Linked DNA regions of Homo sapiens. The protein of the gene in region 2 interacts with the protein of the main gene of each other region in a biochemical or structural test. Each region holds a gene or a part of one and is shown on either strand. Other genes may lie near its edges.

Region 1 (3,500 bases), on a different chromosome or scaffold from region 2:
CTCACTTTGAGATGTGACCACACTATTTATGTTCAGCCAGTTCCAGGGTGGGAACAGGTGATTAAACACAATGAAAGAAATCAAGACTTTGTAATTATTCATGCACGAAAGGTTTACCTCACCTGGGTCACAGCACTTGTTGTGCGCCCATTGAATATCTTAGACATCTTAGAGAGCTTTTCGTCTCAGTTAAATGATTGATTATTAGCGCTATAAAATATATTTTAAATTTGCTTTTGGTTTTGGCTTCTCTAGGCTCTGCTATTATACTTGTTCTTTAAAAAAATAATAACAGAACCTTTAGACAACCAGGGAGTTCAAGCAAATATCTCTTATTTCCCTACATAGATTCACAACTATAGCAGTAAAAGTCTTAACTATATGTAAGGCCTTCCCCCCAGCATTTAGATTCCTCCTCTAAATACAGAGGCACAGAATTTTTGAGCTGGTTAATCTAAGACTGAATAACCTATTTGGGACCTCAGTAAGAAGTGTGGTTTTAATTCTTGCTTGACAGACACTGTGTTTTGTCTTTTAAACGAGCAGCTCGATATGTAAATACGATGTTACATCACGCAAGTGTTACTCCATATTTGGTGATTTAGCAAGGCTTTGGATCTCCGAAGACGACAAATCCCCTTCCGCCTGCTCTTGCTTCATTAATCATGCCTTACACTTCTGTTCATTTTCCTTCCAGTCACAAGACAACACATGGAAATGGTCATTCCCACATCCTGCTGGGGGGTAGGGGAGATAAAATCTTCACCTACATGTCACATAAGGTAAATGTGGTGGATTCAAGAAATACACTCCACAAATGCAGCTTCCCTAGCAGCAGATTTCCCATTTCACTAAAGGGAAAGTATCTGAGTGCTATCACAGAAAGCACTAAAAAAAGAAAGAAAATGCCATGTTTGGTTTTAATGATCAAATTCTAGAGGGGGAGAGGAGAAATAATATGACATTTAATCCCCTCTAGACCACTGACCTATTATGGTTCAACTTTGTGGTCAAACTAGGTCGGAGAGACAAGTTCCAGTGAATCAATTCATGATATGCACTACCTTTCCTAAAACTGAACAAACCTCTTGCCTTTCGGGAGCTGGGTGGTAGGTAGATGGAAGAAAGCGATCCACCAACAGGCATGGCATGTCTGTCATCACAGAATCTGCATTGACTTTTGTCTAACATGCTCAAGCAAAAAATGTTTTGAGGGTCACTATATAGTGTTACTGTTTATCACTTAGAGAAGGGAATTTAAGTCCCACTGCTAGCCTTTAATTCCTTTTCCCTTGAGCTGCCGAGAAACCCACACACCTAGCTGCCTCCCTGCTAAAATTAACCAAAGGAGGGAGGGCTGTTGAATACGTGTGTGTATTTTTCCAAGAAAATTTTTACATTGTGTTATAGCAGAAACAGTGGAGTCTGGACTGGACATTTGTAAGGGTGACATGTGGCTGTGTAAACCACAAACAAAATCAAGATACATCTGTCAAAACCACATCAGAGACAAGAGAGAGCACAGAGAAGCATTTATCATTTAGCTGAGGAGGCAGGCTGCAGGGAGCAGCCGTTCCTGTCAAACCAACCTTTTGAAATTTCCAACATGCCCTTAAACTTTTCGAGTAAGCATGTCTGTGCGCTTCAGCAACTGCCCTCTCTACTCTGGCCTGGCCAGTCGAAAATGGCATCTTAAAGTCAAGGTCATGGTGTCATCCCACCACGGGGCTGTGTTTAATTACAGCCCCATCCGGGCTGACAGCCAATATGGATCCAAGGCTAGCCCTGAAGCTCAGTTAACTCTTTCCACCACCTCCAACTACCCTGCCAGCCCACTCTACTTCAGGGAAGCCTTGAGAACGAGCTGAACCCCTAAGGAGGCCTGGCCAGATGTTCTGAGTCAAACAAGTCATTGGCTGAACTGCAAATGCCTATATGGCCACTTTGCCTCTGACACGTCACCAAGGCTGGAAATGGACAATGGAAGCTGGACTAGGTGTAGTAAAGCTCAATACTTCAAAATGAGAAGGTGGGGATGGGGAAGAAAAGAAATCCAAAATCGACAGATCCAGAGAGAAGGTGTCTGATGTGTGTACCTATCCTGCCTACATCTGATTCAGTGAGGTGGAAAATATTTATTTTTCTGTGTTCTGGACGTAAGCAACAGAAATGATTATTTTAACATTACAGGGCTGTCATGGACAGTCACATAGAGTAATAGAGAAAGCACTTCACAACTCCTTACTGCTTGGCTACAGCACCTCTGAAAATGAAAAGAAAACATGCAAACAGCTTTTCTCCTTGCTTCTCATTTACCTGCTATGTGTTCCTGTTTGGGGCAAATTCCTCTAGATGACGTTGATAAACAATCGTCATCCTCTGGCGTGACCTGGATGCCAACCTCCACGGGATTGGATGCTTTTTTCATCTCGATTGGTGAAGGGGAAGGTGGCTTATCCACAGCTTTTTCTAAGCAGAGGCTGCCATTGCATTGTTTCCGTTTGTGCTCGATAAAAATAAGAATGTCCCCCAATGGGAAGTTCATCTGGCACTGCCCACAGGTGAGGAGGTCATGATCCCCTTCTGGAGCTCCCAACGGGCCGTGGTCTGGTTCATCATCTGTAAGAATGGCTTCAAGAGGCTCGGCTGTGGTTGGAGAAACAAAAGCACAATTATTAGAGTGCCAGAGAGGACAGAAAGGGGAGAAGCACATCTCAACCCCATGCCATCCCACCACATCATGTAAAGTGTTTCTAGGCTTCTCTATATAATACCCAGAAAATGTGAGCATACAAAAAGTACAAGGATGTGAAGGTTATCAACCAGAGAGCAAATTTGTCAATGAGGCAAATCATCACATATGTAAAGAAAACAGTCTTCCTTGCATAACTCCAGAGAACACACACACACACATATACCCATGCACACACCCACAGCAACAAATGTGTCTGGTTTGTAAGTTTAGAAAGAATGCTACTTAAATAGTTAACACAGGGAACATAAAGAAAGCTTAAATAATAACTACAAGAAAAACTGGTTAAAAAAAAAAGTGGATAGAAACCAAATTTGTTTCTTTTTTCCTATACACCAAGTTGTCCATTGTGCCAAAGAATGAAAGGAGAGGTGAATAAACACACACACCCTTTGTGTGTGAATGTATATACTCCTAAGTAAACAGACATGGCTTCATAAATTAGAAAGCTACTATGTCACATGAAAAATGTGCCACATTTACACTGCTGTAATAAGAAAACGACTGCATGCACCTATGAAACGGATCTAAATAATAATCATGTCGCAGCATAATTCACACTGCCAAAAACCTTTCTGCTCTCACTCTCAGCAGTGCCACAAAATCAAAGAAATACCAAATGCACGGGCAGTATTTCTCAGACACATTAGCTAAATGGGATACTTTTGAGTACTTAAGAAAATAAGCCAATTAGTCATTTTTTTTTTATTCTGAGAAATGGAATGCCTATAATATTCTAAACATGTTT
Region 2 (3,951 bases):
GACGGAGGGAGAGGGCGGAGAGAGAGAGGCCGGCTAAAGAGAGAGGAAGCCGGGAGAGGCAGGGAGCAGGCGGCCGGCACTAGCGGAGCCTGGGCAGGGCCTGTAAGGGCCGGGGAAAGCCGGCGAGGCTCGGGCCCAGGCTGTTATCTGACTCCGGACCGGGAGAGTCGCTCTCGCAGAAACACAAAGAAACCCCGGCGTTGGCTCGCCCCAACCCGGAGCCCGCGCCCCGCGCCGAGCGCGCCATTGGCAAAGCACGGCTCGCGGCGCTCGGCGAATTTTATATCACAAAGACCCAACTCGCGCAGAGCGAAAGCAGCCGCCCAGGGCCCCTCGCCCACCCTTTCCTACTTCCTATCGCGCTCTCTTCGTTTCAAAAAGTGAAAGGAAAAAAGAAAGCAGAGGTATTTTTTTTTTTAGCAGGATGTTAATCCACGGAGGGTCACATGAGCGCTGCCCGGGCGGCAGCGTTAATACGGCGAAGTGCATAAAATTGCCATTTGTAATTTGAACCTCCTGTACAAAAGTACAATCTCAGGTTTTTTTTTTTTTTTTTTTGAGAGGGTGGGGGCTGGGGAAAGGGGTGAGGGGGAGGGACATGTTGAACATGCAGGAAAAACAAGGGCAGAGAGAGAGAAGTAAACTAGGCTTTAAAACAACAACAACAAACACCCCATCCCTTGCAGAAAGGCAGACTCCAGTGAACTCACAATCAATGCAAAGGAAATGGAAACAGCCCAAAGAGAGAGTAAAGAAGGAAATCAGTCGGCCAAAGCATGCGGATTTGGGGTCTGGGTTCCAATGCAGAACTCGCTTCTAGTATAAAACCCTTTTCCGCTGCAATACGAAGAGAAGAGCTTGGGGCTTCTTGTCCTTACCCAGAGCAGGCTAGCCAAACGTACCCAGGACCCCGGGACCCAGGACGAGGGAAGGAGAAATGAGAGGCCGATACCTTCCCGTCTCATGCCCACTTTGAGGCACTTTTTGAGGCGGCAGTACTGGCACTGGTTGCGATGGTGCTGGTCGATGGGACAGTTCCGGTTGGCGCGGCACGTGTAGCTCAGGTTCCTCCGCACGCTGCGCTTGAAGAAGCTCTTGCAGCCCTCGCACGTGAACTGGCCGTAGTGCTTGCCGCTCGACTTGTCTCCGCACACCACGCACTCGATGTGTTGCTGCTGCTGCTGCTTGTCGCTACCCGGGCCGCCAGGGCCGCCCTGGCCACCGGCCGCCGTCTGGGCTGGCGTGCTGGCTGGGCCCCCTTGGCCGGGCGTCTGTGGCGTGTGCGGGGCGCCGGGCGGCGGGCCGGGCACGGGCGGCGCCTGCGAGGCCTGGCTGCCCTGTGAGCCGGGCACCTCGTCCTGGGGGTCGCGCCACGTGCTGACTACCATTGCCATATCTATGGGGGCTGCGTCCGGACTTCCTGCTCCCCTGGCTGCGGGCGGCGGCGGGGCGGCGGCGGCTCCCCGGGTCTCGGGCTCCGGCGCGCCGCCTTTTGTGTGTGCGAGGGTGCAAGAGGGCGCGGGAGGGCGCCCCGGGTGGCTCGGGGGCTGGTTGGTTGAGGTTGGTTAGTTTTTCCTTTTTTGTTTTTGCTTTTGCAAAGTTTTGTCGATGGCTTGTCTGGCCCGGTGTGTTTGTTTTGTTTGTTTCTCTCGGCTCAGCTTTGTTGGTTTCGGGGGGCTTTCCGCCGGGAGGGGAGGGGAAGGGGACAGGAGAGCGAGTGGGAGCAGAACGTGGAGAAAGAGGGAGGGGAGGGAGAGCTGAAGTCGATTGTCTGGCTTCAAGACAGAAGTAGGAGGCAAAAAAAAAAATCTCTCCAAAGATCTCGCTCGCTCTCACTCTCTCCCTCCCTCTCTCGTTCACTCTCGCTCTTAGAGCTGGTGTGCAGCCGAGGAGTTGGCGGAGGAGGAGGAGGAGGAGGAGGAGGAAGAGGAGGTGGTGGTGAAGGAGGAGGTAGAGGAGGAGGAGAGGCGACTGTCCGGGGGCCAAGTCCAGGGCAGCCCACAGTCAGCCATTCAGGAAAGCCATCGAAATCAGGAGGACTAGGAGATCGGAGGCGCCGGGTGCGGGCGCGCCCAGGGAGCCAGGCAGGCCGGGGCGGAGGCCGGCGGCCCGCGGAGTGGCCGGAGCGCTGCCCGGGTCCGGGGGAATCAGCATGAAAGTGGTCCGCGTCGGGCGCTGCGCGGCGTCGTCCTGGCGCTGGGCCGCCGCCGCCGCCGCCTGCCCCGGGCGTCCGGCGCGCGCCTCGCTCTCTCCGGCCGCCGCCGCCCGCAGTCGCTGGGTGGAGGCCGCTCGCCGTTCCCTGCGGGCCGCCCGGGCCGCCGCTGCCGCCGGAGCCGCCGCCGAAGCCGCCGGGTCGGGCCCGGAGCCGCTGCGTCTAGCGCCGCCGCCGCCGCTGAAGTCGCTGCTGCCGCTGCTGCCGCCGCCGGAGCCGCTGCTGCTGCTGCTGCCGCCGCCGCCTCACACACATAGGGAAAGAGTCAACTCGCCGGCGGCGGGGGAGAAATGATAAAAGAGAGAGAGGAGGGCAGATCACCACCTAGAAGCACATCCTTCGTGCGCAGAGGGGGGAGAAAAAGACGGAGAGAAAGAATGAAAGAGGGGAAAAAAGGCAGTACGGCACCCGGAGAAAGGAGGCAACTCGGGGAGAGGAGGAGGAGAAGAAGAAAACACACACGCGCGCACGCACACACACACCGCGGAGAGAAAAGAACAGAGAATCAAAGTGATCAAATATGCTAAAAAGGGGGGCGCGGGAGGGAATGCGATTTATAGGCGCCGGGGCTGGCAGAAGTGGCTTCTCCGCGATCAGCTCACTGAGCTCTCTATATAGTGAACTTTGACACGACTGCTGCAACTTAGCGCACGTTGCCATGGCGACGGCGCGCCTTATAAGGCAGCAGCCGGGGTTGGCCTGGCCAGGCGCGCGCGCGCCGCCCCCTCGCCGTCATTGGCCGGACTGCGGCGGCCCCGCCATGGCGGCCGCGGGCGCAGCCCGGTCCTAGCGCGAGCGGCGTCGCCGGCGCGGCGCGGGGCACGCGGGGGACCGGGGGTTGGGGGGGCGGGGACGGGGTGGCCGCGCCGCCGCCGCCGCCGCCGCCGAGAGGGGGATGGGCCCGTGCTGGCCCTGCGAGCGCTGCCTCTGCTCTCCCCACATCCCGCACCCGAGGTTTCCGCCCCGGCGGGGAGACTAGCGCAGCGCGCACACACAACGTCTCTTAAAGGCTCCGCGAGAGGCTTTGGATGGAATCGGGGAGTTTGCCTCTCGCAACTTGGCGATGTCACGAATTCCGCCGCTCGCGCACCACCCGGGACTCCTGGCGCATCTTAGTACCCACAATGCCAAAGAAAAGTTCCCTGGTTTCTTTGCAGAGGGATAGGGAGTGAGGGTGGGAAGGTGCCACGAACTGAGCTTGTAGGCATTTTCCAAACGAAAGAGTTGGCCAGATCCGGGTGATGGCAAACCCTTCTCTTAATTAACTCTGATCACTTGTTCGGTTTGGTGACATATATATATGACATATATTCTTTTCAGAGGATAAAGGCCGTTCTGTTTCTGTTTATTCCTTGTAGGGTTAACATTTCACAGGTATGTGGCCTGACATTTTAATTGCCCAAATAAAGCATCTCGGATGCTGAGAAGCAGAAATAGACTTCATCTGATTGTCATGATGCAATTAGAATCAATTTTCCTCAACTTTACCCTCTCTCGCTGGTTTTAGCTAACTCTCCAGCCAACATCCTGCCACACACCCAGTCATGGTGAGAGGGGAAAGACCTCTGCCCACTGATGGACAGGAGGAGGCAGCCGCCCAGCCTCCCCTGTGCACACCCTCTGTACACACATGTAAGCGCACATGTATCAGATGCACATTTGTCAATGTACACAGACAAAGACTTCACCGACTATGCTTCTAGGTCATAGAACAGTTGAGTACGGACTTCATTGTTCCT

What was found. Proteins that work in one complex are often made in the same cells at the same time.
Region 1: the proteins of NR2F2 (region 2) and BCL11A form a complex in vitro, tested with the Homo sapiens proteins (one study listed by BioGRID).

What each region holds. Positions count from the first base shown.
Region 1 is NC_000002.12:60,543,655-60,547,154, forward strand, and holds part of BCL11A (BCL11 transcription factor A), read right to left. Parts: intron 2,647-3,500; coding exon 2,317-2,646; intron 1-2,316. UniProt on the Homo sapiens protein: Transcription factor. Associated with the BAF SWI/SNF chromatin remodeling complex. Binds to the 5'-TGACCA-3' sequence motif in regulatory regions of target genes, including a distal promoter of the HBG1 hemoglobin subunit gamma-1 gene.
Region 2 is NC_000015.10:96,329,549-96,333,499, reverse strand, and holds the start of NR2F2 (COUP transcription factor 2), read right to left. Parts: upstream 2,801-3,951; 5' UTR 1,395-2,800; coding exon 953-1,394; intron 936-952; exon of another isoform or gene 879-935; intron 240-878; exon of another isoform or gene 193-239; intron 1-192. UniProt on the Homo sapiens protein: Ligand-activated transcription factor. Activated by high concentrations of 9-cis-retinoic acid and all-trans-retinoic acid, but not by dexamethasone, cortisol or progesterone (in vitro). Regulation of the apolipoprotein A-I gene transcription.